7 linked regions of the Homo sapiens genome follow. The protein of the gene in region 2 interacts with the protein of the main gene of each other region in a biochemical or structural test. Each region holds a gene or a part of one and is shown on either strand. Other genes may lie near its edges.

Region 1 (4,409 bases), on a different chromosome or scaffold from region 2:
GGCTGCAGTGAGCCATGATTGTGCCACTGCACTCCAGCCTGGGCAGCAGAGTGAGATTCTGTCTCTAAAAAAATTAAAAACAAAATAAAAAATCTCATGATTTTCTAAGCAGCTAGCTTTTATTCTTTAGGTTTTATCTTTTAGAGCAGTTTTAGGTTTACAGCAAAATTGAGAGGTACAGAGATTTCCCATGTGTTCCCTACACCCACACATGTGTAGCCTCCCACCTTGTCAACATCCCTACCATCCATTTGTTATAACTGCTGAACCTCCATTGACACATCCATATCATCCAGAGTCCATAGTTTATCTTAGAGTTCACTCCTAGGAGCGAGCTTTTTAAAAGTCGGTTTTCTTCCCCTTTTGCTGTAGAAAGGCAAAGGCATCACAATGCTGGAAGAAATCAAAGTCCCATCCATCAAATTGGTGTACACTTTGACGGTCCCCGAGGCCACGGTGAAAGACAGTGGAGATTACGAATGTGCTGCCCGCCAGGCTACCAGGGAGGTCAAAGAAATGAAGAAAGTCACTATTTCTGTCCATGGTACATTCCGCTTTCTAAAATGTCAGTTGTCCATGCTGCTCGGGATCCATATGTGGTAATCATTATTTAATGGAAACTCTTCCCTGTACAGAGAAAGGTTTCATTGAAATCAAACCCACCTTCAGCCAGTTGGAAGCTGTCAACCTGCATGAAGTCAAACATTTTGTTGTAGAGGTGCGGGCCTACCCACCTCCCAGGATATCCTGGCTGAAAAACAATCTGACTCTGATTGAAAATCTCACTGAGATCACCACTGATGTGGAAAAGATTCAGGAAATAAGGTAAAGAAACTCTCTGCCCAAGTATGCCTTTTTTTAGTGTGCATCAGAGGCGGACTGAGGTTTGTGTGTGTCTTACAACCCAGACCCAAAGTCAGTCTAGAAAATGTAACAATCTGAGTTAAGAGATGCTTGAAATCACATCCCTTTAATGATAACATTGCAAAGTGGTATTAGTATGCTGGTAAGTATTTAATGAGAAGATGAGAAGAAAGAACTAAAAGCTCTGGCCCCTGGGGAAAGACAGGTCACTGGATTCAGCTAGGGTGGAAGAAAGGAAGTAAAATTGGACTCACCAGGATTGAATAGATTGAATATATTCCCTGATGTTCATCATCCATATCGCAAGTAGACAGATATGGTGATTACACCCATGAGGCAGTTATCACATCACCTTACGTGAAAGTTAACGTCATAGGCTTAATCTGGAACCCATTTGCCCTAATTGAGGACTCCACAGGAAAGAAGAGTAGAGCCTGGCTAATCAGGAGAGAGATGTGCAGTGAGTTGCTTGGATCCCTACCTTTTAATCAGAATGGTAGATTGCTCTCATCTCTTAATTGGTGGTGGAGTTTTGAATGAGTCACCCCTCAGCCACAGTTTCCTCATCTACAATGTAGGATAAACAATACCTTATGTCCTTCAAGGCAAGGAATTGGATCAGATGATATCATGAGGCCTCTTAAGGTTTTAAGCTGTGATTAGAACCCAAGAGTCAGAAGATACATCTCACAGCACCCAGCTAACCAGCCCTATACTTTTGTCAGAAATCATCTCAGAAAGACAAAGTCAGTCCTGTATTTCAAGCCTTCAGGAGGAAGAACAGAGCCTTTCTCATCAGTTCCATTCACCTCAGGATTTGCTTTCTTCTTTGTGAACTAAATTCCACGTGTAATTGAGAAGCAATGTCTGAGAAAATGGAATTTTACAGCCTCTATAGAATAGTAAAGGAAAAATGAAGTGGGATACTGAATCTGGAAGGCTTTCTGTTGACACAAAATGAAGGTGTACAACAAGGAGGGCAGCTTTCCACGAGGAACTTCCATGAGGCTGTGCAGCCAGAGAGGAATAGGGTAACAACCCTGGTACAGCTAACACCTCCAACACGTGTGTGAGCACTGTCTGCAAGCCATAATCCATAGCAGTGGCAGGACAGGCTCGCCAACTGAGTGGTTCTGGAAAGCTGCCTTTTCCTTTTAGTGATTCAAGGATGCTTCAACGTGGATTTTTTAGTTCCTGTTATGAGCCAGTGAATACAAAGATGAACATGGTAGATGGGGGATCTGGCTTCCTGGAGCTTAAAACTCCAGGATGGGGGATCTGGCTTTCCTGGAGCAAGAAAACCAGTGGTTTTCTTGGCCGAAGAAGTGAAGAGAACAAACAGCAGAGGATAATTTGGTAATCAGCATCCTAGTGTGCCCCAGGGTACTCTCTTAAGGAAATCCAGTCCTGGAGCACACCCAGTATGGTCCAGCCTGCTGTCTTCGTAGGTCTGAGTGCCCCAGTATTTGCAAAGTGTTTTGGAGCCTATGAAATGCTTTCACACATACAATCTCCTTTAATTAACTCTCACAATGACTCTGTGCTATGTGTACAATTATCACGTTTTACACACAAGGAAACTGAGGCATGGAGCATTGTAATAATACCCGAGATCTTCTCACTCCATGACCAATGCTTTTCTTCTCCATTCCAGTTGCTTTTTCAACTGTGATGATTTATAAAGGACAATCAAATGGGCACATACTATATTTATGCACATACATACACACACACACACACACACACACACACACAACCAGATGTCATTTATAATCCATGTAAAATATTTTTGGGGAAGTTTCTCTTTAATAAAGTTTGAAGAGACATATATTTTTTTTTTTTGAAGAGGCATATTTTTTCTAACTTTTTTTTTTTTTTTTGAGATGGAGTCTTGCTCTGTCACCCAGGCTGGAGTGCAGCGGTACGATCACGGCTCACTGCAACCTCCGCCTCCTGGGTTCAAGCGATTCTTCAGCTTCAGCCTCCTGAGTAGCTGGGATTACAGGCATGTGCCACCATGCCTGGCTAATTTTTTTTTTTTTGTATTTTTAGTAGAGATGGGGGTTTCACCATGTTTGTGAGGCTGGTCTCGAACTCCTGACCTCAAGTGATTCACCTACCTTGGCCTCCCAAAGTGCTGGGATTACAGGTGTGAGTCATCACACCCAGCCTATAACTTTTTTTTAATAGGTGATAGAATCCCGTGCTTGAAAAATAATCAAACAAAAAGAGAATGCATTGTAAGAAGCCTCACTGTACTCCTGTCCCCAGCTGCCCAGTTCTCCCCTCCTCCCCACAGGGAAACATCTTCATTAGTTTCATTAGGTTCTTATGAAACCTTCCAGAGTTTCTTTAAGCAAAATACAAGCAAGTAGGACTGTCATATCCTGCAGACCGCTACATACAAATACATAGAAAGTGTCCTCATTCTATCCTCCAGTGATATTCCATTTTTTGGCTGAACCACCTAAATGATGGATATTTAGGGGAAGCAAGTATTTTTTAAAAAAGGTAAAAATCAAAGGTTTTTATTTTTTATTTTTTTAAAGAAAAGTTGGTAGGCTGTGTTTATTCATTCAGAAGTCAGGCCGTGGCTGAACTGATAGCTCTTGGAGATGGCCATTGCTCATCTCTGAATGTCTGGTTTTCTCTTGTAAGAATTGTGTGTATGATCCAGACCTTCAGTGTGTGCACTATATATTGAGAATTCCAGAAGAGATGATATGGACAAGAAAAAAAGATGACTTTACTTTTTACAGTAAAAATAAAACTTAAATTGAAGAGTACAATTGTTTAAACAATTGGAACTTACTTAGCTACTGCTTGTTGAAACAAAATCCTTTTTTTAAAAGGTATCGAAGCAAATTAAAGCTGATCCGTGCTAAGGAAGAAGACAGTGGCCATTATACTATTGTAGCTCAAAATGAAGATGCTGTGAAGAGCTATACTTTTGAACTGTTAACTCAAGGTATGTAAAGGGAGTATAAAGATAATGCTAGCTCTGTAGATGAGTGTCTTCCAAGGAAAGCCTGGCACTTTTCTCCCCGGTCATGGAAGAAAAGCAGCACTTAGGGGAGAAGCAGTGTCTGCATATGTCACATATCGGGAATACCTCTGCTGGACTCATGAATTCAGGTATTTCTGGGAGGTTCTGGGTTACTCTAGAGTAGGCGAGGAATCCCTAGGCTCCACCAGCTAGCTTTATTTTTGTAGAGATGGAGTCTTGCCATGTTGCTCAGGCTGGTCTCCTGGGTTCAAGCTATCTTCCCACCTTGGCCTCTCAAAGTACTGGGATTACAGGTGTGAGCCACTGCACCTGGCCTCCACCAGCTTACTTAGCACCTGCTTCTCAATCTGAGAAGAGAGAAGCAGATGACCTTAGATTGTTCTGGAGAGTTTTGCTACAAGTTTTCCTTATAGACATTGTACAGTGGTCCTTACCAGAAGGGAGTGCCCAAGTCTGTTTACATTCAGGCTCAGCACCTATCCAGAGTCCCAGCCATGAGCCAGGTGCTGTCTGAGGTGCGCTCATGTGATCCTCACAG
Region 2 (4,409 bases):
CAAGCCTCAACTAAGGTAACTTGACTCTGTTCCATGACTTCTGACTGCACTCCTGATGACTTCCATTTACTTTGCTAAGGCAAGCTGCTAGTTACAGGAGGTGAGTCAGGAAGAAGATTTGAGGAAGAAGCATGCCATAGAGTTTGGTCTTTGGAGATAGATGTGGTTTTGAATTCTGATTTTGCTACTTTTTAGCAATCTGACCTTAGACAAGTTAGTTAAGGAAACAGTCTTATGTATATATCCTGACTGGCAGTTCAGTCATAGTGAAAACTGATCAGGACCTAAAGATATAAAAACAAAGCGTTTAAATGAAAATTTTAGAAAGTTTTGGAACTGTTACAGTAAATAGCATCCTTAGTAATTTAGTCGTGTTGTGTCACAGGCAGAAGGGATTTTCAGTCCCCTGGTACTGCAGATCTTAAACCCAGGGTCTTGAAGCTGGTGACAGAAGAACCAAAACTTGGAATTCAGGGTCCCTTTCCAGCTCTGTGTTTGTTAGAGTGGATTTCCTTTGGGTTCTTTTCACTGTGCTGGAGTATTTGACTTTGGGATTTTAAATTTTCTTATTTAGACAATTCTTCATTTTACTTTTGTGGACGCTGTGCTTTTATTTACTAACATTAACTAGTTGGTGATGATCTCCATTTTACTTTACAGATAAGAGAATTGAGGTTTGTCAGATTACTCCCCTAGAAAATTGCAAAGCTGGGATTTGAACCCAGGTCTGACATACCCAAAGCCCTGGCTACCAATCATGTGTTTCTAAGTGACAGTGCTTTTGGTGTGTCTTACAACAGGTAAGGTAGAAGCTGAGTTGAAAGAGGCTTCTGAATGAGAGACCTCTGGATGCTTGGGGGTTTGGGTGCCCTTTCATGACATACTGTCCTGTGTCTATGAAACAGCACAATCATCTATCTCCCTCTGAACATTTGTTTTCAGTGTTTATACCAATAGCTGTGAGCCTTTATTTGTTTGTCATAAGCTTTTATAATTTAACAGTGTGTGTCTGTTTTTGTTTTGTTTTGTTTTGTTTTTTGAGACAGAGTCTCACTCTGTCACCCGGGCTGGAGTGCAGTGGCGCATTCTCAGCTCACTGCAACCTCTGCCTCCCGGGCTCAAGCCATTCTCCTGCCTCAGCCTCCCAAGTAGCTGAGATTACAAGCACCTGCCACCACGCCCGGCTAATTTTTGTATTTTTCGGGGTAGAGACAGGGTTTCACCATGTTGGCCAGGCTGGTCTCAAACTCGACCTCGAGTGATCCACCTGCCTTGGCCTCTCATAGTGCTGGTATTACAGGTGTGAGCTACCGTGCCTGACCTATATGTCTGTTTTTGAAGTTGTTTCTATGGAACATAATTCCAGAATGGATTTCATACTTACTGATTTTATTACTTACCTTAGGAAGCTGGTTTGGACAGTAATTTTCACTTTATTTGCAGTTAAATAATTATGGATTTAGTATACATTTGGTAGTAAAATTAATTCAGCTCTAACACTGATTTGTGGAGTCATTTGGGAGATATATTGAAAATTTACTTGAATTTGGCCACAAATTAAAAAAAAAATTTACAAGAGAAAATACTTAAATATCTAACATTTTTATTCAGTAGGAAGTAGAGCCAGTAAATTTGAAACAATTTAAAAAATGAAATAGTATTTGATGCTTTTTACACTTAGCAGTGCACCTTGGAAATTGGTTCTATATTCCATATAGTGCAGCCTTACTATTTTTTTTAGGGTCTGCCTTTTTCACTGAGTCTTAGAAATAGTTCCATGTCAGGACAGAAAGAGAACCTCATCTAGCATTCCATTAAGTTGATATGCCATAATTTAATTAATTAATTAATTAATTTATTTATTTATTTATTTGAGGCAGAGTCTTCGCTCTTGTCATCCAGTCTGGAGTGCAGTGGTGAGATCTCAGCTCACTGCAACCTCAGCCTCCTGGGTTCAAGCGATTCTCCTGTCTCAGTTTCTCGAGTAGCTGGGATTACAGGCACATACCACTGTGTCCAGCCAACCATAATTTATTTTAATTTTTATTAATAAACGTGTGTGTGTGTGTGTGTGTGTGTGTGTGTGTGTGTGTGTGTGTGTATATATTTTTTTTTTTTTTTGTTTTTGAGACAGAGTCTCGTTCTGTCGCCCAGGCTGGAGTTCAGTGGTGCAATCTCGGCTCTCTGCAACCTCCGCCTCCTGGGTTCAAGTGATTCTCCTGCCTCAGCCTCCAGAGTAGCTGGGACTACAGGTGTGTGCCACCACGCCCCACTAATTTTTTGTATTTTTAGTAGAGACGGGATTTCACCGTGTTAGCCAGAATGGTCTCCATCTCCTGACCTCATGATCCGCCCACCTCGGCCTCCCAAAGTGCTAGGCTTACAGGCGTGAGCCACCGCACCTGGCCTGTATATACCTTTAAAGACAAAAATGGAATCACTGGGCATACTTTTCCCTAGTTAACATTATCATGAGTATTTTTCGTGTATTAAATATTCCACTATGGGCTGTTTCCAGTTTTTCACAATTAATTCACAGCTATAGTGAATAATCTTTTGGACAAATCATTGCTTACATCAGTGATTATTTCCTTAGGATAAATACTTCGAATGGTATATACATTTAAAATATTTTTAGTTCATTTTGTCAAAATTTTGTCCAGCAAGATTTTTCTTTTTTTTTTTTTTTTTTGAGACGGTGTCTTGCTCTGTCGTCCAGGCTGGAGTGCAGTGGCGTGATCTCGGCTCACTGCAAGCTCCCCCTCCCGGGTTCATGCCATTCTCCTGCCTCAGCCTCCCGAGTAGCCGGGACTACAGGCGCCCGCCACCATGCCTGGCTAATTTTGTTTTTGCATTTTTAGTAGAGACGAGGTTTAACTGTGTTAGCCGAGATGGTCTCGATCTCCTGACGTCGCGTTCTGCCCGCCTCAGCCTCCCAAAGTGCCAGGATTACAGATGTAAGCCGCCATACCCGGCCTTCCTCCAGCAAGATTTAACAGGTTTGGCCGGGCACAGTGGCTCAAGCCTGTAATCCTGGCACTTTGGGAGGCTGAGGCAGGGGGATCACTTGAGGTCAGGAGTTCAAGACCAGCCTGGTCAATACAGTGAAACCCTGCTTCTGGAAATACAAAAATTAGCCAGGTGTGGTGGCAGGTGCCTGTAATCCCAGCCACACAGGAGGCTGAGGCAGGAGAATCGCTTGAACCCGGGAGGTGGAGATTGTAGTGAGCCAACATCGTACCACTGCACTCTAGCCTGGGCAACAAAGCAAAGTTCCGTTTCAAAAAAAAAAAAGGATTTAACTAGTTTAACTCTTATTCATTAAACAAATAGTTTTTGATCTCCCACCCTGTCCCAAGCATTGTTTTCCATATTCGGGATTCAGCAGTGAAAGAAAAACATTCCTGTCCCGTTGGCTACTATATTATTATAGTGGGAGGAAAGACAGAATAAACAATAGACATAAATAAGTAAATTAAATAGTATATTAGGTGATAGGTGGAGAAAAAAGAGAAAGATAAGTGGGGGTTGAGAAATGGAGATAAGGTTACAGTTTTAAATAGGGTGATGGAGGCCACACTGAAAAGGTGACATTTGAACAAAGACTTGGAAGAGGACTGCTCTAGGCAAAGCAGTGGAAATGGGAGTGTTCTTGTATCTCCTGTGAAGCCACCAGAACTAGGTAATATTACTTGAAAAATCTTGCCAAATCTGGTAATCTATAAAATACCTTGTTGTAATTTTGAATTTTTTGCCCATTTTTAATATTAGATTGTTGATCTTTTTCTTGATCTTAAGAACTCTTTATTAAGAATGTATCCTAGCCAGGTCTGGTGACTCAAGCCTGTAATCCCAGCACTTTGGGAGGCTGAGGCGTGTGGATCACCCAAGGTCGGGAGTTCGAGACCAGCCTGATCAACATGGAGAAACCCCTTCTCTACTAAAAATACAAAAAATTAGCCGGGCGTCATGGTGCATGCCTGTAATCCCAGCTACTTGGGAGGCTGAGGCAGGAGAATTGCTTGAACCTGGGAGGTGGAGGTTGCAGTGAGCCGAGATCGTGCCATTGCACTCCAGCCTGGGCGACAAGAGCAAAACTCCATCTCAAAAAAAAAAAAAAAAAAAAAAAGAGAAAGTATCCTTTGTTGTGCGGCAGACTTTTATTTCTCAGCTTGTTATAGGTCCTTCAGATGTCACTTATAGTGTGCTTTTTACATAAATTGATTTTTAAAACCGTGGCAAATTTGTCTTTTCCTCTGCTTTTTCTTTTTTCTCTCTCTTTTATTTTTTTTTCTTTTTTTGAGATGGAATCTCGCTCTGTCACCCAGACTGGAGTACAGTGGCATGATCTTGGCTCACTGCAACTTCCGCCTCCTGGGTTCAAGCAATTCTCCTGCCTCAGGCTCCCG
Region 3 (3,716 bases), on a different chromosome or scaffold from region 2:
CCTATTTTCAGTCGTTCTAACCTATTTGAATACGCTTTTCCTTAAAGTGATACGATAATATTACTCTTGATTGCTGCTGCTTAATTTGATGTAATATGTTTAAAGTTCAGCCTCTCAGTTTTAATATAGCTTTATTTTTCAGTGGAGATCATTGTTTAGGATGAGACATTTTTGGTTTTGGTTTTGTTTGGGTAAATTTTAAATGGTGTGAAAATCGATGACAACAGTCCTCTTACAGATAGCTTGCTGTATTCTGTATAGCTTACTCTACCTGCAGACAGAAAATGAAAGAAAAAAATGGACTTGCCTAGAATAATATATTGAATGCCTTTTGATTTAGCCAGAGTCTCTGATGATTAGCTTTCACTGATAGAGTATGTCTTTTCAGCCTGTAATTCTTTGGGCCCCAAAGAATGACAAAGGAGGCACTCGTTCTCTTTTCTTGCTGTATGCCTAGAAAGTGGTTGAAGGATTCTTGATGCCCTAAAACCATCTTGTAAGCTAAATGGTCTTGCATCCAGAAAGGCCAGATTTTACCTACCAAGAAAAAAAGATATTTTTCCAGAGAGTTAGGTATATCATAATTTTCCATTTCAAGTCCTGTTTATAAGTCTAGTCATTCTGCAACGTGACATATCCCCCAAAATGAAGTTACCTTCCAAGTTGGACACGTCCCGTAGTTGGGCATATGTCTAACTAAAAGTTTCTGACTTTTAGTAAATTCAGCTTAAATATAAGTTGAAATTTGGGAAATAATTTCCAAGCTCTTGGAAGGGGTAACAGTGAACCGCCCTCCATGGGCTCCACATCTTTTCCTTTGGCTTCCAAAGTCAGGTCCCGCCCACCCTGCCTAAGGAACTGCAGAGAGGTGGCAAATCAGCAAAAAGGACACCAGGCTCTTCTTGGCCACTTGTAGGAAGATCCCTTTACAATTTTGACTAAGGAGATTTTTTTTTTCACAGTTGAGTTAGTTTGTGAAAATAAAGAACTCTGTAGCTCACCAAGGTGGAGAAACGCAATTCAGAAAAGTAATTTCTCCAAGGTCACTTCTTTTTTTATGTCTTGCCATCACTTTAAAGGACTAGCCCCACTCCCCCATGTGTATACACAAGGAAATTGCAGACCAATTAGTTGTCTTGGCCTGACTCTAATGCCTTTTGCAAGTAGCTTTCCAGAAGTAAAAGTCCCAGTGATGTATTCCCATAGAAATATTTTTCAGTTGTTTATGTCGTTTACTACAAAAAAAAAGATTCAGAGTGGATGGAGTACAACTCTGAGTATTTTTCTAGTCCGGAATTTTTTATTAATAATCGGTGCTGCCGGGTCATGCATGCTGCAACTCTCAACATTTCCCTTATTTGGTTCAGCTTTTAGCAAAAAGGGCTACAGTTCACCCTGCAGAGTATTAAGGTTTCTGGATTTTTTTCTCCCAACTGTGGCCCAAAAGAATTAAAATCTGTTAATATAAATAGAGAACATATTTATCATTCCTCGATAGTTAATTATAGACTTTGGTACCTTTGTGCCTCAGGGAAGCCACGTGATATAACTGGTTATAGAATTTCAGGGTTAGGGTTTAAAGAAAGGAGAAAGCCATTGGAAAAATGATGGGCTCCATTAAGGAGACTAATGAATCTGGATGCAGAAATATGTCAGAAACTGGCATAAACATGATTGTAGTAGAATTTATTTTCCAGTACCAATAGGGAAATTATTTTAAGTTATTACATTTACTGTATTGGGAAACTTGAGGAGAACTCTTTAGTTCATAAAGCTTCAATGTCTTTTTTTTTTTTTTCATGGAAAAACTCAAACCTCTGTTATTTGGGAGCTCAGTATTGTGTGGACACTTACGAGAGTTTTCTGCTTAATTGAAGTGTAATATAGGTTGTAGAATTGTTACCTGCAGTTCTATGGTTTTGTTTCACTTCTTTTCTTTTTTAAAGCCATTCTGTTCTTTGGATGTGCTTGAAAGGGTGTGTGATTACACCATTGTTAATGCTGGGTAAAAACTATCTTCTTGCAGCCTTGCCTCATAACAGTGGAATTTCTGATAGACAAACCACAGGACTTTGATTTTAAGCCAAATCCATCTCCATCCCTTTACTGTCAATCTTCTGTCCCAGTAGTTTAGCCTTTGTGGCTTAGGTTATGATGCGCCTCCTTCTGTGCGACCAATGAGACGACTTCAGCATCTTTTTAAAATAATCTAAGCATCATTGAAGCAGTAACACAAAAAAAAGGTTCAGTATTTTCTTTTTAGTATAACTTACATCCTTTCAAATAAGTCTTTGCCCTCATGAAGAATCCCTAGAGGAAGATAAGGAAAATAAGTATTTTCCAGTTTTGCTTGACAGTTTCTAAACAAACAAAAATAAACTCAATGAAAGGAAAGATGTTTCTTTTTAGCTGAGATGACAGATTGCTTCTCTGTATTAAATAGTCTAGAAGTTAAGGGGATGGTCACATTTACCATGTATTGTGTTATTAGCAGTTAAATTTTATGAATATGTTTGTAAAATTGTTGTTTTATATTTCATGTCAAATTGAAAAGTTTATTTCTTCACTATTGTACCTGTGGAAATACAAGCCATTTTACAGGAAAAAATCTTCAAAAACTATTAAATGGATATCAGCCTGTTTGTGAGCCATTGTCTTCAGATTCTGTGGTTGTCACTGAGTTCATTAGGACATTTAGTAGGTTGATACGAGTAGAACTGATTTTTTTCACTTCTCTAACTTCCAAGTTAATCTCCAGCTGTTGAGTTTATTAATTGTTTTATATTCTGCACAATACATATTTAAACCTTGATTCTGAAAATCCCCTACATTTTTTAATTAAAGAAATTTCCTTGGTGCCTATATTACTATTTCTCGTGACATTACATCACTGTCAAATAAAGTTAACTTCCAGGGGAATTTAACCTGACTTGTAGAATTAATGGATTTTTGTCATGATCATTTCAGCCATATTGCTGCTCTTGTGACAGTCTTCATTCACTTTTAACAACATAATAAGGATTGTGTATAAGCCTTCAAGCCTTCCTTGAAGCCTTAAACTAATATATCTATCATAAGAAAATGTATATATTTATGACAAATTTTGTTCTCATCACATTGATATTCAAAGAGTTTTAGTATTATTGAGAGAAACAGATTTTTCATTTCCAGAAAAAAAATGCACATTTATATAGGCTTTTATTTCAGGGGATAAGTGTTCCATACTTTGTCAAATCTAAGATGCCACGAATTGTGAGATGTGTTATAGAAAATCACAACTGGTTATAATTGTAAGTTACATTCCATTGGGCAAGGAATACACCTCACACAGCATACAAACATTAAATCAAAATGGGTCAAAGAGCTACAACTATAGAACTCTTAGAAGAAAACATAATGTAAACCTTTGAAAACATAATGTAAACCTTTGTAACCTTAGATTTGTCAGTGATTTTTGACATACCAAACGTAAAAACACAAGCAACAAAAGAAAAAAGGCCAGGCACAATGGCTCACGCTTGTAATCCCAGCACTTTGGGAGGCCGAAGCAGGCAGATCACTTGAGGTCAGGAGTTCAAGACCAGCCTGGCCAGCATGGTGAAACCCCGTCTCTGCTAAAAATACAAAAATTGGGCGTGGTGATGGGCGCCTGTAATTCCAGCTGCTTGGGAAGCTGAGGCTGGAGAATCGCTTGAACCTTGGAGGCAGAGGTTGCA
Region 4 (4,240 bases), on a different chromosome or scaffold from region 2:
CCAACATTTACCCACTGCTTCCGGCTGGCTAGATCACCATCCTGTAATCATCAGCACCACCTACCAGGTGCCAGGCCCATGATCTCATTCAATCTTTTTAACAGCTCTGAGGGAGACATTATCACTCTCCCCATTCTACAGATGAAGAAACTGAGAGTACAGAGCCTGCACTTAAACACTAAGCTATCGTTTTCTATAGGCATCCAGCCTACCCAGGACTCACCTCTTCAAAGCACTTGACAACGGAAAGAAAAATTACGGCAAACTCTAGAAGGGGATGCCTGGCGCATGAAGCAGAGCTCTGAACACCTAAGGTGATATTTAAAGCTGAGGCTGGAATCGTTCAACGTAGGCGCCTTTCCTTGGTCAAAGCGCGTTTATTTTCATACATCATGGAGTCAAACTACAGGCGCGTAGAGACGAGTACACTAGGGAGTCAAGCTGGCAGCTCACGACAAATGCCCTGGCTAGACTCTCCTGGGACAGCTGAGCAATGCCCTTGCAGGAGAAATGACATCAGCCACTCCTGTATTTGTCCACATGTGTATTGGGCCTTACTCAGGGAAACATTTACTGAAGCCTGCAAGCATTAGTGTGTCGCTCCCATTCACCGACTTTCCGAGGTAAATATTATGAACTATCCCATTTTACTTAGGAAGCAACTGAAGTTTAATAAGGTTAATTCCATTGCCTGGCGACGCCCAATCAGGGGAGAGGATTCTAACTCAGTAATCTTTGACTCCAGAATGCAACTATCTCTTGCATACCCTCTGCTTCCCAAAACTCTCCGGCCTCCATTTCTCCCTCTTCTCACGTTTCTAAATTGCAACCGAATTTGGAGTGAAAGGGAGCAGCAGCCGAGGCAGGAGAGTAGGAGGTGGCCAAAGTCCTCTAAGAGCCTCTTCCCTTGCGGCCCCGCTGCCCAAGGCTGGGCGCGAGTCCCAGGGCTTTTTCAGAGATCCCTAGACCTCTGCGTGGCGGCCCCTCCCTGAGAGCACCCGGTTACCGTGACTGAACGGCGTCCTGCGGCTCCAGGCCTCAGCCACCTGCTTTTTCAAGGTTTCTTCCGTAACAGCGTCCGAAAACTCCGCCATCACCTCCTTCTTTCCCTTTTTTCCCACCCGGGCTGGGCCGGGCTCCGCTGGCCGCTTCCCATTCATCTCTTCCCAAGGCACAGAACCACGCCACGCAGATCAAGACGCTACCTTCCTGAGGGTACTGCAACTCCCGGCATGTCCCCTTTATCGTGTTTCCCGGCCCTACCCAATGGGAAGCACCAAAGTAAGAGAAGGCGGAACCTATACCCGGTTTACCAATGGGAGCTCCAGCTATTGCAGCCATCCCACCAGCAATTGGCCCACTGGAGCTCGGTCTGGCAGGCCACCGCCCCTCTACTTCCTGCCGCCAGAGGCTCCGGGTTCACTTCCGGCGTGCCTACGCCTCCTCTTGCGCTGTCCTGTTAATGGCGGGCAGTAGCCGCTGAGGGGATTGCAGATAACCGCTTCCCGCACGGGGAAAGTCTACCCTGCCTGCCACTTTCTGCTCGCCGTCAGCGCCGGAGCTCGCCAGCATGTCTGTGGTACCGCCCAATCGCTCGCAGACCGGCTGGCCCCGGGGGGTCACTCAGTTCGGCAACAAGTACATCCAGCAGACGAAGCCCCTCACCCTGGAGCGCACCATCAACCTGTAAGTGCGGCGCGGCCTTGGCGGGCATTTCTCTCGTGAAAGCTCCTATAGACTCTCCGACGCGCCCCCGGCTTTTCGGCGCGCTTCACGCCTCTGCACCTCCCCGCCTCCAACTCCCGCTGGCGGATGCGCGCCTTCCTCCCTCTCTCAGGCCCCTTTCTCATCCTCCAGCCTCCAGGGTTAGAGTCCTTTTCTGAAAGGAAGGCTTGTTCCCATCCTATGTATTCGGTCATAATGGGGAAAAACGGAGTTTGCTTTTAACTCATCCTTTCCCCACCTCTCCAGAGGTAACCGACTTCAAAATGTGTGTTTTTTTAATCCTTCCAGTGAATTGTTTATGCTTTCGCATCACGTACATGGTATTGCTTTGTGAGTGTTGATGTGATACGAATGGTATAACCTAGTATCATTTTTGCAGATTTCACTCTGACAGTAAGGTTTCGAGATCTAGCTGTAATGCCTAGGTCTAGTTTTCTTCCTTTTAGGTGCCACTTAATACTTCAGTTTTTGAATACAACACATTTTATTCATGTGCTCAGGGCTGTCTGCCCTGCCCCATGCCTTATGCCTTCGCGTCGTCTGATGTCTCAATGCCGGCATCCCAGGCACCACAAGTAGGCCCCTCCTTGGGAGTAAGGATGCTGCTATGGTTGGGCTTTCAGACTGGAGGGAACCAGAATGTTTGTACCAGAAAACCCATTGTGGGCTGTGTTTTATTTTCAACACCTTTCTGTTTCAACACTTCAAACCATTGCATTTCAAGGTCATTCTCAGAAGCAGACTCGCTGTAGCAGGTAATTGGCGTTTGGGGTGTCTTAATCAAGAAATTGTCAGTAATGCTTTTTAAAATCGTTTCTGAGGATTTGTTTTCGAGGCAACGCGGTGCCTCCATTTTATGCCAGGATGGAGGAAAGTGGCCAGTTTATGCCAGTCAGGGTACAAGTGCAAGGATTTGGTGGTATTGATGTTTTCGTAAGGCAGTTTAGGTGTTTCTCTGTTTCATATTAAAATAAACGGACATTGTCTCCCCGTCCCCCAACCAAAAGTGATTTGAAGTTGAAAAGATGGTTAACATTGTTTTATTTTGCAAAACGTGTTGGCTTGGAAATTTAGATAATGGAAATGCTGGGTTTATAAAATCTGGAATTAGTTGATAGTTGTGTGTATAAAAGTTCTCAGGAGTGGCGGCTCACGACTGTACTCCCAGCACCTTGGGAGGCTGAGGTGGGAGGATCACTTGAGGCCAGGAGTTGGAGATCAGTCTGGGCAACATAGGCTGTCTCTACAAAAATTTTTTTAAAAATTAAGAAAAAATCCATCAAATGGTAAAGGCAAATGTTATCCTTTTTAAAAGTGTGAAAGCACAGCTTCTGGATTACTTTCGGTGGTTATTAGAACTAAAACCCACAGTCTTTTCTTGTTTTGTCTTGATTACTGAATTAATTTGCATCCAACCATTTTGTAGAATTGGCAAAATAGTTAGCTTTCAGTAAGATATTTTAATCTTCGCTCTATTAAAATTATGGGTTGATTTACAGTACATTTCCTCTCCTGTGTAAATACAAATATTCAGAAATAATAATTGTGTTGTGAACTTAAGTTCACCTGAGTTAACATTAAGTTGAAAACAAATGCCCTCTCCCCCAGTATATTTTATTTTAGGAAATATTGCATGAATGCCTACTTTGTACCAGGCACTGTGCACAATACTGGATATACAGTGGTGAGGAAGTAAGGTGTAGCCCCTGCTTTATGAAGCTCACAGTATGATGAGAACAATATGTATGTCTGGGCTGGCACTCTGATTTCACAGGTGAAAATTCTGACATTTCATCTTCACATCTCCTTACTGATATATTGGAGCTGGCTCTTGCAACAGAGATGTGTAATGGCTATCCTTAATTCTTTCTAACTCAGGTTGTCAGAATTAAATGTTAATATATGTAAAGCGTTTTAAAAAATTGCTTGGCACGTCGTTCTATGTAGCATATCTGCTGCTGCTATGGATGATGGTTTTAGATTTAGCATTGGATCTACCGGGGATGTTCTTTAAATTTTTAAAGCATCCTGGAATGGTATATTTTAATTATTTTAGAGCTTTTTCATATGCCTAGAACTTGGCTTCTGGAATTAAAGTAATTTTTAAAGTTTTGGCAACCTTGATTTTTTCCCCTTTCAAGAATGGCTGAGTGGGGTAGATACAATAATGTTGACTATTAATGTCAAGGGCTTTTGGTAGAATAGATACCTTGGATGGGCAAATGTGGCCTAAATTCGTACTCAAAGGCTTCTTGCTGTAAGGCTTTAATTAAGGGCTTACAACATATAAGTATGGATTTTTTAACTATCTTTAAAGAAAAATTTGATCCTTATTAGGCAAGATGAAAACTGTCTTTAACAGTTTGAGCCATATTTTAAATTATTGGTAAAGGAAGAGAGTTTTCGATTAGATATGGTGGGTAGAAGATTCAGATGAGGAGAAGGAAACAATAAGGAGACTGAATAGAATAAATGCCAAAGGCTAGTAAATAGGTTTAGAGGACAAAAAGAGAAA
Region 5 (4,400 bases), on a different chromosome or scaffold from region 2:
CACTTTGGGAGGCTGAGACGGGTGGATCACCTGAGGTCAGGATTTCGAGACTAGCCTGGCCAACATGGTGAAACCCCGTCTATACTAAAAACAAAAAACAAACAAACAAAAATATACTTTTGGGATATGTATTTGATCTCAATAACTTAATTTCCATTCATTATTGAACACCTCCAAAGGACAAGGCAATGTTCTTTCTAGGTCTGGAATATAGCAGGGTGTAACAAAAGTTAACTTCAGTTTAGTAGGTTGGAAAAAACATAATATGTAGAAGATGTCAGGGTATAAATGCCACAGAGGAAAGTAAAGTAGAAAATGGGGATGGAGGCTGGGCGCAGTGGCTCAGAACTGTGATCCAGGGCTTTGAGAGGCCGAGGTGGAAGGACTGCTTGAGCCTCGAAGTTTAAGGCTGCAGTGAGGTATGACTGCACCACTGTACTCCAGCCCAAGTGACAGAGCAAGCAGAGCAAAACCCCGTCTCTCTCTCTCTCTCCAAGTGTGTGTGTAGGGAGGACAGTGGGTAGGGGAGATGGAAATGTTTCAGAATGGGATTGCTTGTTATTTCACAAAAGGTGGTGGGAAAGAACTCAAAAACGCTGACACCTGAGTAAAGACCAGAACTAAGAAAATGAGGGAAGAACAGTGCAGGAGGGCTAATAGCTAATACAAAGATCCCCTGGCACATGTGAAACTCACCTTAATACCCATCAATTTCCTAAATTTGACATTTTGGTCCTTGTTTCCAAAATTCAATTTTTCCCATATTTCAGCAGATTGGGATTTGTCCTGTTAACAAACACTGAACTTTAAAATATGTAAAATTTAAATATTTTTTAGGACATGAAATCTCTCAACAATGTCTAAATTAAAAAAAAAAACACCATGGATAGCATTCAATCAATGTAAGTTTAATTATTTCAAGACTTAAGAAACCACAAAGCAAAGAAATACAAGCAAGAGGTTGGCGCCGTGCTTCACTCCTATAATCCCAGCACTTTGGAAGGCCGAGGTGGGCAAATCACCTGAGGTCAGGGGATCGAGACTAGCCTGGATGACTAGGTGAAACCCCGTCTCTACTAAAAATACAAAAAACTAGCCTGGCATGGTGGTGGGCACCTGTAGACCCAGGAGGGTCTCAGGAGTCTGAGGCAGGAGAATTGCTTGAACCTGGGAGGCAGAGGTTGCAGTGAGCTGAGATCACACCACTGCATTCCAGCCTGGGTGACAAGAGCAAGACTCTGTCTCAAAAATAATAAAAATAAAATAAAAAAATGGATTATTTTCCTGTCATAGACCTTTTTCAACATGCAATTTTTGCGACTGCATGTCATTTGCATTTAATGTCATTTGTCATTGCAAATAATGTCAAAAAAAAAAAAGTACCTCATAATCTATGAAAAATTCTAAACCAAGTAGCCTCTTTTCCTTACTACTTCTATGGTAATATTAGTTTTCTTTGAAAGCTTGACTTCAATCAATTATGTTTTATTTTAGTATTAATAACTGGCAAATAAGACTATCATAGCTTATTATAAGTTTTTTGAGACAGGGTCTCACCCAGGCTGAAGTGCAGTGGCGTGATTTTTTTTTTTTTTTTCCAGATGGAGTTTCGCTGGAAACTCACTGCAACCTCCGCCTCCCAGGATCAAGTGATTCTCCTGTTTCAGCCTCCCAAGTAGCTGGGATTACAGGTGCCCACCACCATGCCTGGCTAAGTGGCATGATCTTGGCTCACTGTATGTAGGCTCTGCATCCCAGGCTCAAGCGATTCTCCTGCCTCAGCCTCCCAAGCACCTGGGATTACAGGTGTGTGCCACCACACCCAGCTGATTTTTATCTTCTTTTCAGTAGAGACAGGGTTTTGCCATGTTGGCCAGGCTGGTCTTGGACTCCTTACCTCAACTGATCCGCTCACTTGGCATCCCAAAGTGCTGGGATTAAAGGCATAAGCCACCCGCGTCTGGCCACCCCAGGTTCTTACAAAGTTAAGCCGAAAGTAATATTTTTCAACCCAAATTTGTTTTTCTAAGCAATTACTAATTAGGAATAAACGACAGAAAAGCAGAATAAGAGAACTTACCCCTTCTTTCTTGCCCTGCCAAAGCATTTTCCTTTTTTTCTCTTGTTCAGCAAATTTCATTGGATTAACAGCGGCTGGGTTATAGTAGCTAGGAACAGCTATTCCTGTCTCTGCCAAAGCTTTAGCTTGCAGGGCTGCCATCTGAGCTGCCATGGCTATCTGAGGTGTTACTTGTGTTCCTGATGCCAACAGGGCAGCAACATTGAGAACAGAACCTCCAGTAGCTGCAGCTGCTTGAAGAGAATACAAAAATGGATTTTAAAACGATTTTAAAACATAAACCTCCTGATTTACATTAACGAACGATTTATAAAAAGCTATGAATGTGCAAAAAGGCAGGATTTTCACCAAATCCAAGGAAATGACTGAGTATTAGCTCACAAGTTTTTAGCAAACATTTATTGTGTTCATCAACGGACATATTTCTACATAAACCCTTGATATATAAACCATTTATTGCAAGGCGCAGTGGCTCACGCCTGTAATCCCAGCACTTTGGGAGGCTGAGGTGGGCGGATCACCTGAGGTTGGGAGTTCGAGACCAGCCTGACCAACATGGAGAAACCCCGTCTCTACCAAAAATACAAAATTAGCCGGGCGTGGTGGTACATGCCCGTAATCTCAGCTACTCGGGAGGCTGACGCAGGAGAATCACTTGAACCCAAAAGGCGAAGGTTGCAGTGAGTCGAGATCATGCCACTGCACTCCAGCCTGGGCAACAAGAGCGAAACTCCGTATCAAAACAAAAAAAAAACCCATTTATTTACTTTGAGGATAGAGAATTCTGCAAATAGTAAGAAAGTATGATTTCAGTGGAGATGAACTATAGTGTTTCTAAGGTATAATTACAAAACAATAAAACCTTGTATTTTTTTAAATTTATGAAATGTTCTCATGGACATTTCATTTGATGCTCACATCATATACTTGAAAAACAGTATGCAGCTAAGGCTGGGCGCAGTGGCTCACGTCTGTAATCCCAGCACTTTAGGAGGCCAAGACAGGCGGATCACAAGGTCAGGAGTTCGAGACCAGCCTGGCCAACATAGTGAAACCCCGTCTCAAATAAAAACTACAAAAAAATTAGCCAGGCGTGGTGGCAGGCGCCTATAAGCCCAGGTACTCAGGAGGCTGAGGCAGGAGAATCACTTGAACCCGAGAGGTGGAGGTTGTTGTGAGTCAGGATTGTGCCACTGTACTCCAGCACAGGCGACAGTATGAGCCTCCGTCTCAAAAAAAAAAACAAAAACAAAAACAAAAAAAAACCCAAAAACAACAACAGTATGCAGGTATTATGCTAAGTCCAAGTTCAATAAAGCCCTGGTATTTCCACTGTGATTGAGCAGTCCTCTGTAAAAAAAGACACCTCTGATTACCTATTTTTGTCAGTCCAGAATATAACCTTAAAAAGTACTTAAATTACCAACATTATGGGAACCAGAGTTACCAAAGAGAGTAATGATGTAGTAAAAATAAAATGGCTATTTGTAAACTTTTAGAGTTTCAAATAAGTGCCACTGTTTACCAAAAATGTAAAAAACAACAAAAAACCATCTTCCAGATTAAATTTCATACCAAATCAACAGTAAGCTCTTCGTGATAATTTTTTGTTTTTTGTTTTTGTTTTTTTCTTTTTCGTGAGACAGGGTCTCACTCTGTCACCCAGGCTAGAGTGCAATGGCGTGATGTTGGCTCACTGCAACCTCTACCTCCCGAGTTCAAGCCTCCTGAGTAGCTGGGACTATAGGCACACACAACCACGCCTGGCTAATTTTTGTATTTTTAGCAGAGATGGGGTTTTGCCATGTTGGCCAGGCTGGTCTTGAACTACTGACCTCAGGTGACCCACCTGCCTTGGCCTCCCAAAGTGCTGGGATTACAGAAGTGAGTCACTGAGCCAGGCCTGATAATTTTTGAAATCTGCAATGTTTGTTACGCATAAAAACTTGATTTCTTGAAAGAGAAATACATATTTCAGATCAGTTCACTTTCTTGCATAAACTACATTTCCAAAATCGTAAAAGACATCTGGGGCCGGGCGTGGTGGCTCATGCCTGTAATCCCAGCACTTCGGGAGGCCAAGAAGGACGATCACCAGGTCAAGAGATCGACACCATCCTGGTTCAACACGGTGAAACCCCGTCTCTACTAAAAATACAAAAATTAGCTAGATGTGGTGGTGCACACCTGTAGTCCCAGCTACAGGGGAGGCTGAGGCGGAGAATCGCTTAAATCCAAGAGGCAGAGGTTGCAGTAAGCTGAGATCACGCCACTGCACTCCAGCCTGGGCGATGGAGCGAGACTCCGTAACAACAACAAC
Region 6 (4,409 bases), on a different chromosome or scaffold from region 2:
CATTGCTCACATAAAGTATTTGACATTTTCTCACAAATTCTCAGTCCCTTCTTACTCCTTTCTCTTTTTTTGTTTTTGTTTTTGTCTTTGAGACAAAGTCTCACCCAGGCTGGAGTGCAGTGGTGCCATCTTGGTTCACAGCAACCTCCCCCTCCTGGGTTCAAGTGATTCTCCTGCCTCAGCCTCCCCAGTAGCTGGGACTCCAGGCAGGCGCCACCATGCCCAGCTGATTTTTGTATTTTTAATAGAGACGCAGTTTCTCCATGTTGGCTGGGCTGGTCTTGAACTCCTGACCTCAAGTTATCCGCCCACCTAGGCCTTCCAAAGTGTTGGGATTACAGGCGTGAGCCACTGCCCCTGGACTCCCTTCTCATTATATGCTCCTGTGTTCTGTAGTGCCAAAATGTGAATGTCTAGCCATTGCCATTCCCTTCTTCTGAGCTTAAAATTTCTCTGAATCTTTGCGTCCCTTTTTCTTTCTCATGTCTCCTTCAGGACTAATGCTCTCAAACATCTTCCTTTTATTTTAAACGTTCATTCCTTTTCCATTTTCAAGCATTCGAAGCAAGGCCTCATACCCAGAATGTTAAAAACGTTGTTCATTTCTTGCCTCCCTTCTCTTTCTTTATCCAGTCAGCAACAAAATGGGTATTCTAATAAGATTTCTAAAACAATACTTTGCAAACCACACCCTGCTGAAAAATCTTCAGTAATTGAGTGTTGTCTAGAATTGCCCCGTTCAGTATGGTAGTTACTAACAATATGTGGCTACAGAGTGCTTTAGCTACTTTGAACTGAAATGTGCTTTAAGAATAAAATATATACTCAGTTTCAAAGGTGTAATTTAGACGTTTCTTTTTTAAAAAAGAATGTAAAATATCTCAGTATTTTTTATATTGATTACTTATTGAAATGATGGTATTTGGGATGTTTTAGTTTAAATAAGAAAATTTTTCATTTAAAAATTTTTTATTTTATTTTTTTAAGACAGGGTCGGTTGGGAGGCCAGGCATGGTGGCTCATGCCTGTAATCCCAGCACTTTGGGAGGCCGAGGCAGGCGGATCACCTGAGGTTGGGAGTTCGAGACCAGCCTGGCCAACATGGTTAAACCCTGTCTCTACTAAAAATACAAAAAATTAGCCAGATGTGGTGGTGCACACCTGTAATCCCAGCTACTCGGAAGGTTGAGGTGGGAGAATCGCCTGAACCCCAGAGGCGGAGGTTGCAGTGAGCTGAGATCGCACCATTGTACTCCAGCCTGGGCAACAAGAGTGAAACTCTGTCTCAAAAAAAAAAAAAAAGACAGGGTCAGTCAGGTACAGTGGCTGGTGCCTGTAATCCCAGCACTTTGGGAGGCCAAGAGGAGCAGATCACTTGAGGTCAGGAGTTTGAGACCAACATGGTGAAACCCCGTCTCTACTAAAAATACAAAAATTAGCTGGGCATGGTGGCATGCATCTGTAATTCCAGCCACATGGGAGACTGAGGCAGGAGAATCACTTGAACCCAGGAGGCAGAGGTTGCAGGGAGCCAAGATTGCGCCACTGCACTCCAGCCTGGGCAATAGAAGGAGACTCAGTCTCAAAAAAAAGAAAAAAAGAGACAGGGTCATGCTGTGTTGCCCAGGCTGGACTCAAACTCGTGGGCTCCAGTGATCCTCCTGCCTCAGAATACTCAGAATAACTGGGACTACAGGCATACCACTGCCTGGCATAGACATACTTCATCTCTTTCTTTTTACATTTTTAAGTGCAGCTATTAGACAACTCAAAATTACATTTGTGACTCCCATTTTTATTGGTCACCACTGGTCTTCAATATATATCCAAATTTCTTATTCTTGGCATTCAAAACTTCCAAAATGTGGCTGCTGCTAAGCTCCATATTCCATGTTTCTATAGACGTATTCTTTTTTTTTCTTTGTTTTTTGAGACGGGGTCACGCTCTGTTGCCTAGGCTGGAATGCAGTGGTGTGATCTCGGCTCACTGCAACCTCCGCCTCCCGGGTTCAAGCAGTTCTCCTGCCTTAGCCTCCTGAGTAGCTGGGATTACAGGCGCACACCACAACGCCCGGTTAATTTTTGTATTTTTAGTAGAGACAGGGTTTCACCATGTTGGTCAGGCTATTGTCGAATTCCTGACCTCGTGATCCACCCACCTCGGCCTCCCAAAGTGCTGGGATTACAGGCGTGAGCCACTGTGCCCGGCCTGTATAGACATGTTATTGGCCAGGTGCAGTGGCTCACGCCTATTATCCCAGCACTTTGGGAGGCCAAGGAAGGTGGATCACTTGAGCCCAGGAGTTCAAGACCAGCCTGGGCAACATGGCGAAACCTGTCTCTACCAAAAAAGTAGCCAGGCGTGGTGGTGTGTGCCTGTAGTCCCAACTACTCAGGAGGCTGAGCAGGGAGGATCCTTTGAGCCTGGGAGCCAGAGATTGTAGTGAGACAAGATTGTGTGCCACTGCACTGCCTAGGTGGCAGAGTAAGACCTTGTCTCAAAAAAAAAAAAAATTTTTTTTCTTTGACCACAAATGTCTGCTCATTGTCTACTACATCATGCCCTTTCCTACCTCCATATTTTATTTCTTCCTTAGAGTGTCCTTTTACTATCCCTATTTGTCACTTCTGTGCTCCCTTTAAGACCCAGCTCCTGGGCTCATTGCTTCCTCTGGAATTTTTACCATGTGAGACTTTGCTGTATACATACACAACTGCATACATTCCTAAGCACATTTGTATTATTTATTTCTACCTTTATTTTAATATAAAGACTTGTCTAATAGCTCTTATGGGATTTTAAATCAGTCATTGTCAATATATTTATTGTCTATTATATATTAAATAGCATTGAGGAAAATTTTCATGGTATGAATGAGTATTGTACAGGAAAGAAAATATAAGTTACGACAGAAACTCACACTTAGCAATTAGAAGTCAGTATAAAAGTACTCAAACGAAAAATTTGATAACTTCATCTTTGATAACTGCTTCATATGTAGTTATTACCAACTTCTGGTGATTCTGCCTCCAAAATATATCCCAAAGCCATTCATGTTTTGTCATCCTCACTGTTAGCACCCTGGTCTAAACCTAAACTACTATAGTAACTTTTTTCCTAACAAGTCTCTCCACTTCTACTTTTGCTTCCCAAGTCATTTTTTATATTTCAGTCACAGTGATCTATTTAAAACACAAATCTGGCTGGGCACTGTGGCTCACGCCTGTAATCCCAACACTTTGGGAGGCTGAAGCAGGCAGATCACCTGAGGTCAGGAATTCGAGACCAGCCTGGCCAACATGTGAAACTCCACCTGCACTAAAAATACAAAAATTAGCCAAGTGTGGTGGTTCATGCCTGTAGTCCCAGCTGCTGGGGAGGCTGAGGCAGGAGAATTGCTTGAACTCGGGAAACAGAGGTTGCAGTGAGCCGAGATCACACCACTGCACTCCAGCCTGGGCAACAGAGTGAGACTCGGTCTCAGAAATAAATAAATAAAATAAACACAGATCCGATTCTGTAACTTCTCTTATTTAAAACTCTAAATTGGCTAATGTCCTAAAGATAAAAACCCAGATTCTAACATGTCCTACGTATTTTTCTAGCCGTATTTCATGCCATTCTCCCTTTCATTGCTCCCTTACAGACAGTAATATTTTTATACTTTTGAAATATTATTAAGCAGGCACAGTGGCTCCTGCCTGTAATCCAGCACTTTGGGAGACTGAGGCAGGTGGACTGCTAGAGCCTATAAGTGAGCCGTGATCACACTACTGTAAAATATCTCAGTATTTTACAGTGGTATGATCACTCCAGCCTCAGCAACACTGAAACCCTGTCTCTTAAAAAAAGAAAAAAAAATATATATATATAATTTTTTTTTTAAGACAGAGTTTTACTCTTGTCACCCAGGCTGGAATTCAGTGGCACAATTTTGGCTCACTGCAACCTCTGCCTCCTGGATTCAAGTGATTCTCCTGCTTCAGCCCCCTAAATAGCTGGGATTTCAGGCGCCTGCCACCATGCCCAGCTAATTTTTGTATTTTTAGTAGAGATGAGGGTTTCACCATGTTGGCCAGGTTGGTCCCGAACTCCTGACCTCAGGTGATCAACCCTTCTGGGCCTCCCAAAGTGCTGGGTTTACAGGTGTGAGTAACTGCGCCCAGCTGATTGAAAGATTTCTATGCTGTATGCACCTGCTCTACTGAGAAGGTCATGGAAAAGACAAGAGTTCAAAGGCTGATAGAATTCTGGAACTTCAGGGAGGGATAGATTAAGATCCTGCATGGTTTAGGCCTTTGGACACAAAACTATAAGCAGTAATTGTTAATATCACTCTAGCAGTTGAGTAGAGGACTGACTCAAGGTGTCAGAGATAAACACAATCGGACATTAAAGTGGTGAAAAC
Region 7 (4,409 bases), on a different chromosome or scaffold from region 2:
GAACTGCAGTGTAGAACATCTATAATTTTCACCTACAAACCAGAAACAAAAATGTTTAAATATTGATGCCAGTATTTATAAAGATGCAGGAAATTAGGCAATGCCTATGAGGGCTGGGGTGCTAAAGGAGGTGCACATTACTGAAGGTACTCTAGAAAGCTATTTGACATTAGTCAAATAATTGTGTGTACTCTTTGACCAGTAGTCACACTTCCTGGAATTCATTGTAAGGGAAAATTTCCGATAAGTGTAAATATTTGGCTACAAGTATACTGTTTTCTTATTAAAATGCTGAGAAATAATCCAGATATCCAATGGTAGGGGATTAGGTACATTATTGTATTCCAGAATACTATGCAGCCCTTAAAAATTATATTCTGGATGCGTACTAACTGGTATGGAAAAACAATGCCATATAAAAAAAAGCAAGTCATCAGATTGTATACAGCACAATTTCTTTTCTAAATATACATATGTGTTTTTTTTAAAAAAAAAAAAAAAAAGAAAGGAAGGAAAGCATGATGCCTCCCAGACTCTCAGCTGAGCTGGAGGGGACAGGTCCTCCAGGGCCAGAGTGGTCCCCAGAGCTCAAGTGGAAGGTGGACCTCAATAGGACCAACACGTTCACCTTCCCACTCCAAATTTCACCTTCTGAAGGGCCCAGGATTAAAATATCACGTAAAGGAAGCAGGTCACCTCCACGGAGGGGGCCATGGGCTGAAGCCTGGCTTAGAGGAAACAGCATGGGCCCGGGAGGCTGATGCTACACAGCTGGAATCCCAGCTTGGCCTCTTCCCCAGTGTGGGCCCTTGGGTAAGTCACCCCTTTCTGTAACAGAGGGGCTGTTGTGAAGACGCTGCATAGCGCACAGTATTTATGTAAGTTTCCATTAGGGAGCCTTCCACCTCCTTCCATCCAGCAGCCCCAGGGCAGGTGCGGTGGACTCCTCGCCCCCGCTCCCTTACTCTATGGAGGACTGAAGTCCTGCTTACCTGAAGAGGTGATACAGTGATCTGAGCAGGAGGAGGAGGAGTCCCCAGAGAAGCTGGGAGTGTGTCTGGAGTTGGGCCTGGAAGGATGGCTCCCTCCACCATCATTCACACGAACTGGAGGCTGGAAGGGAAAGATGGGGTCTCAGACCCACATTTTGGGGTTGCCTTCCTACCTTGGCCCTGATCTCTGATAGGAATGGCTTTGAGGAAGGTCTACAGGAAGGCGAAGCCTCCCAGTGCCAGGGGCAGAGCAGCCTCCGTCCCTACCCCAGTTCTGTTCAGGATGTCCCCTGCCCTCTGTCCCTACTCCCTGGGCCCTGGCTCCACTAGTGCTTCTCCTCTGGACCGGCTCATCCTCCCAGCAGGCAGACATACCCGGAACTGGCAGAAGTCGGAGTAGGTGGGGTCGTAGGTCTTATGGTGGGCGTCCAGCAGTATGGCAATGATGCGCTGCTGCTCCTCAGACAGCTTGGGCCGCAGACTGTCCTTCAAGGCCTCCTCCTCCTTCCGCTTCAGGATCATCTCCCGCTTCCTCTGCACTTCCTCATCTGTCAGAATGACTGTGGGGTGGGAAGGGGAGTCAGGAGGGCTGGCCAGCAGCTCCTCCAGGAAACCTTCCTCCTGCGGTTGGGGGTAAAGGTCCAAGATAGGAGGGGCTTTAACACTCGGGGCTCCCTCGGGGGTCCTCCTGCCACGGAGACTCCCACTCCACTGTGTGAAGAAAAATTGGGTTTGCTATGGTGAAAAGGAAGGCACATGCAAGAAGAAGAAAAAGAGGATTTGAGAGGGGGGATGATCTGGGCTTTAGGGAGTCGGGGTTCTCAAGAACAAGTTGTGGGACCTTGGGCAAACTCTCTGGGCTTTTGTTCTTTTGTTTGTAAAATGAGAGATTTGGACCATGTAAGTTCTTCCAAGGTTCCTTTCTTGTACCTTCCTCCATAAAGTGTGTGTGTGTGTGTCTGTGTGTGTTGACATGCAGGTGGGGGAAGTAATAATACCTGCCTCAAAGGATCAACTGATTTGAGAACTGGATGCATGCCTGGCCCAGAGCAGATGCTCACTAAATGTTAGTTCTCTTCTCTTCCCTACCCTGATGTTCCATGATCCTGAAGAAGATATCAGGGTGAAGAGAGGATGCCAGAGCTCTCATAGCGCTGGAAGTGAGATGTGGAGAGGACTCCTCTATGTGGCTGTCTCCACATCCAGGTTTCCAGACATGGGACTGTGGAATATAGAAAGACTAGACCTCTTTGGTTCTCTGCAAAACCACCCCTCCTCCAGCATGTACAGCCTTGACATTTCTGTCCATGGAAGTTTTCAAGTCCTCTTGAAGGCCCCAAAGGGTGAGGCCTTGCAGCTCTAATCTTAGAAGTTCTCTCCAGCCACTAATCAGGGTGTGGGGCCATAGAGAGCCCCACCACCACCTGCAGGCTTCTGCCTGCCTCCCTGTGCTGGGGCAGCTGTGGGGGTGGAGGGGATGCTGGGAGCAAAGGTGCCTGGCACGGCGGCTGGGCAAACAGACCTCCTGGCTGTGGCTTGCTGAGTGCTGACGGCAGGAGTGGGCACCAGGGCCTTTGGCCTGTAGCTACTTGCTTGGTGCTGCTGCTGCCAGGGCATCTGCCCACAGAACTGGGGAGTTTCACAAGAGCAGAGAAAGGAACCAGAAGCCCAGGGTGGGTGAGTTCCAGGCTTTGAGAAAGGTCCATTGGCCCAGGCCCTCAGGTAGGGGGAGGACGAGAGAAGTTGCTGTGGGGTGAGGAAGAGCCTATGCTGGGAGGGAGTGGACAGCCAATGCCACAGGCATGGCAGGAAAGCGAGCGCTACTGCAAGAGATGGTGCTTCCCTCCACAGGGAGCCTGGGAGTAGACCACACCCAGGTGACTGACTCACCTGCCCAAACAGCTGCCAACTCTCCTCCCACAGTGGGTGTCTGCACAGACCCTACCAGGTCAGGCAGGGTGGGAGAGGAAGGGGCAGGGAGCATCCAGGGAAGGCAATGGGGGTAAGCCCTCGCTTGGGGAGCCCAAGATTAGGTGTCTTGTCTTTCCTGCTCACCTGGGGACCAGAGTTAGGGAGACCTGTTTCTGCCAGCCACACCATGGTGTCTACAGGCACGTAGCTCAGCCTGACTGGACTTTGCTAACTTTCCAGTGATTCTGTGATGCCATTCTCCTGCCCAGATACTTTTCTCGGCCCCTACTGATGACCACGTCCAAACTAAAGTTGGCCTCTTCCTAACTTTCAGACTTCATGTCTTAGTGCTTCTGGACACAGCCTCTGTTCTGGGCATGCTGGCATTGCTGCTGGCCTGGGAACATGACCTGCTCATGCTCGCCCCTGCATTTCCAGTTGTGCTAGGTGCCCGTCCAGCTGGGTTTTCTCTCCCCCAAACCTGTATGAGTTCTACCAGTTCTTCAGTGCCTACATCATAGCCATCTTTTTCCATGAAGCATTTCTTGATTGCCCTGATCTGCATCAAGCCTTGTTTTTTTCTGCTGAGCCTCATTTCCTATGCCTGCTACATATTTAGTCTTTCCCACACACATTGACACCCAATTATCTTCTGCTCTGTAAGACTCATGGTTAGCACAGTTTTCAATTCATTACCTATAGACGGAGCCCAAGAAGTTCAAGGTCTCTTTCTCTAGATTACAAGTTACTTAAGGGCAGGGTCCATGTCTTACAATTCTTTCTTTTCTCTCCCTTCCTTTCCCTTCCTTCCTTCCTTCCTTCCTTCTTTCCTTCCTTCCTTCCTTCCTTCCTTCCTTCCTTCCTTCCTTCCTTCCTTCTTTCTTTTTCTTTCTTTCTTTCTTTCTTTCTTTCTTTCTTTCTTTCTTTCTTTCTTTCTTTCTTTCACAGACTCTCGCTCTATTATCCAGGCTGGAGTGCAGTGGCACCACCTCGGCTCACTGCAACCTCCACCTCCCGGGTTCTAAGCGATTCTCCTGCCTCAGGCTACAGAGTACCTGGGCTTATAGGCACATGCCACCATGCCTGGCCAATTTTTTTGTATTTTTAGTAGAGATGGGGTTTCACCATGTTGGCCAGGCTGGTCTCAAACTCCTGACCTCAGGTGATCTGCCCGCCTTGGCCTCCCAAAGTGCTGGGATTACAGGCGTGAGCTACCATGCCCGGCCTTTGTCTTACAATTCTTATATTTCCCCCATAAAGGCTAGACCGGAGGGGCTACCTGGCCGTGGTGTCTGCTCAATAGTCTGACACCAAATATCAAATGCATCCACACAGATTACACCAACTGTGTGCAAATCATTTTCCTGGTTCAGGAAAGGCTAGTGAGTACTCTAGTGCTGCTTGTCTCCTGCAATGTAGTGAATGGCACCTGGCACACCAGAGAGCTGAGAAAGCTGACCTCTTTTATTGAAACAATTGTTATGGAAAGATTTTCAAGACAGAAAA

What was found.
Region 1: of the proteins of SRPK1 (region 2) and PDGFRA, one has a biochemical effect on the other in vitro, tested with the Homo sapiens proteins (one large-scale study listed by BioGRID and IntAct).
Region 3: of the proteins of SRPK1 (region 2) and PELI2, one has a biochemical effect on the other in vitro, tested with the Homo sapiens proteins (one large-scale study listed by BioGRID and IntAct).
Region 4: of the proteins of SRPK1 (region 2) and NUDT21, one has a biochemical effect on the other in vitro, tested with the Homo sapiens proteins (one large-scale study listed by BioGRID and IntAct).
Region 5: of the proteins of SRPK1 (region 2) and RSRC2, one has a biochemical effect on the other in vitro, tested with the Homo sapiens proteins (one large-scale study listed by BioGRID and IntAct).
Region 6: of the proteins of SRPK1 (region 2) and FKBP3, one has a biochemical effect on the other in vitro, tested with the Homo sapiens proteins (one large-scale study listed by BioGRID and IntAct).
Region 7: of the proteins of SRPK1 (region 2) and VDR, one has a biochemical effect on the other in vitro, tested with the Homo sapiens proteins (one large-scale study listed by BioGRID and IntAct).

Annotation. Positions count from the first base shown.
Region 1 is NC_000004.12:54,266,917-54,271,325, forward strand, and holds part of PDGFRA (platelet-derived growth factor receptor alpha isoform 1 precursor), read left to right. Parts: intron 1-372; coding exon 373-544; intron 545-635; coding exon 636-825; intron 826-3,716; coding exon 3,717-3,832; intron 3,833-4,409. UniProt on the Homo sapiens protein: Tyrosine-protein kinase that acts as a cell-surface receptor for PDGFA, PDGFB and PDGFC and plays an essential role in the regulation of embryonic development, cell proliferation, survival and chemotaxis.
Region 2 is NC_000006.12:35,913,690-35,918,098, reverse strand, and holds part of SRPK1 (SRSF protein kinase 1), read left to right. Parts: intron 1-4,409. UniProt on the Homo sapiens protein: Serine/arginine-rich protein-specific kinase which specifically phosphorylates its substrates at serine residues located in regions rich in arginine/serine dipeptides, known as RS domains and is involved in the phosphorylation of SR splicing factors and the regulation of splicing.
Region 3 is NC_000014.9:56,298,663-56,302,378, forward strand, and holds the end of PELI2 (E3 ubiquitin-protein ligase pellino homolog 2), read left to right. Parts: 3' UTR 1-2,862; downstream 2,863-3,716. UniProt on the Homo sapiens protein: E3 ubiquitin ligase catalyzing the covalent attachment of ubiquitin moieties onto substrate proteins. Involved in the TLR and IL-1 signaling pathways via interaction with the complex containing IRAK kinases and TRAF6.
Region 4 is NC_000016.10:56,448,533-56,452,772, reverse strand, and holds the start of NUDT21 (cleavage and polyadenylation specificity factor subunit 5), read left to right. Parts: upstream 1-1,440; 5' UTR 1,441-1,570; coding exon 1,571-1,686; intron 1,687-4,240. Other genes in the region: prolyl 3-hydroxylase OGFOD1, read right to left, coding at 1,007-1,160. UniProt on the Homo sapiens protein: Component of the cleavage factor Im (CFIm) complex that functions as an activator of the pre-mRNA 3'-end cleavage and polyadenylation processing required for the maturation of pre-mRNA into functional mRNAs.
Region 5 is NC_000012.12:122,506,138-122,510,537, forward strand, and holds part of RSRC2 (arginine/serine-rich coiled-coil protein 2), read right to left. Parts: intron 2,314-4,400; coding exon of another isoform or gene 2,311-2,313; coding exon 2,081-2,310; intron 787-2,080; coding exon 697-786; intron 1-696.
Region 6 is NC_000014.9:45,124,009-45,128,417, reverse strand, and holds part of FKBP3 (peptidyl-prolyl cis-trans isomerase FKBP3), read left to right. Parts: intron 1-4,409. UniProt on the Homo sapiens protein: FK506- and rapamycin-binding proteins (FKBPs) constitute a family of receptors for the two immunosuppressants which inhibit T-cell proliferation by arresting two distinct cytoplasmic signal transmission pathways. PPIases accelerate the folding of proteins.
Region 7 is NC_000012.12:47,856,137-47,860,545, forward strand, and holds part of VDR (vitamin D3 receptor), read right to left. Parts: intron 1,553-4,409; coding exon 1,368-1,552; intron 1,114-1,367; coding exon 993-1,113; intron 1-992.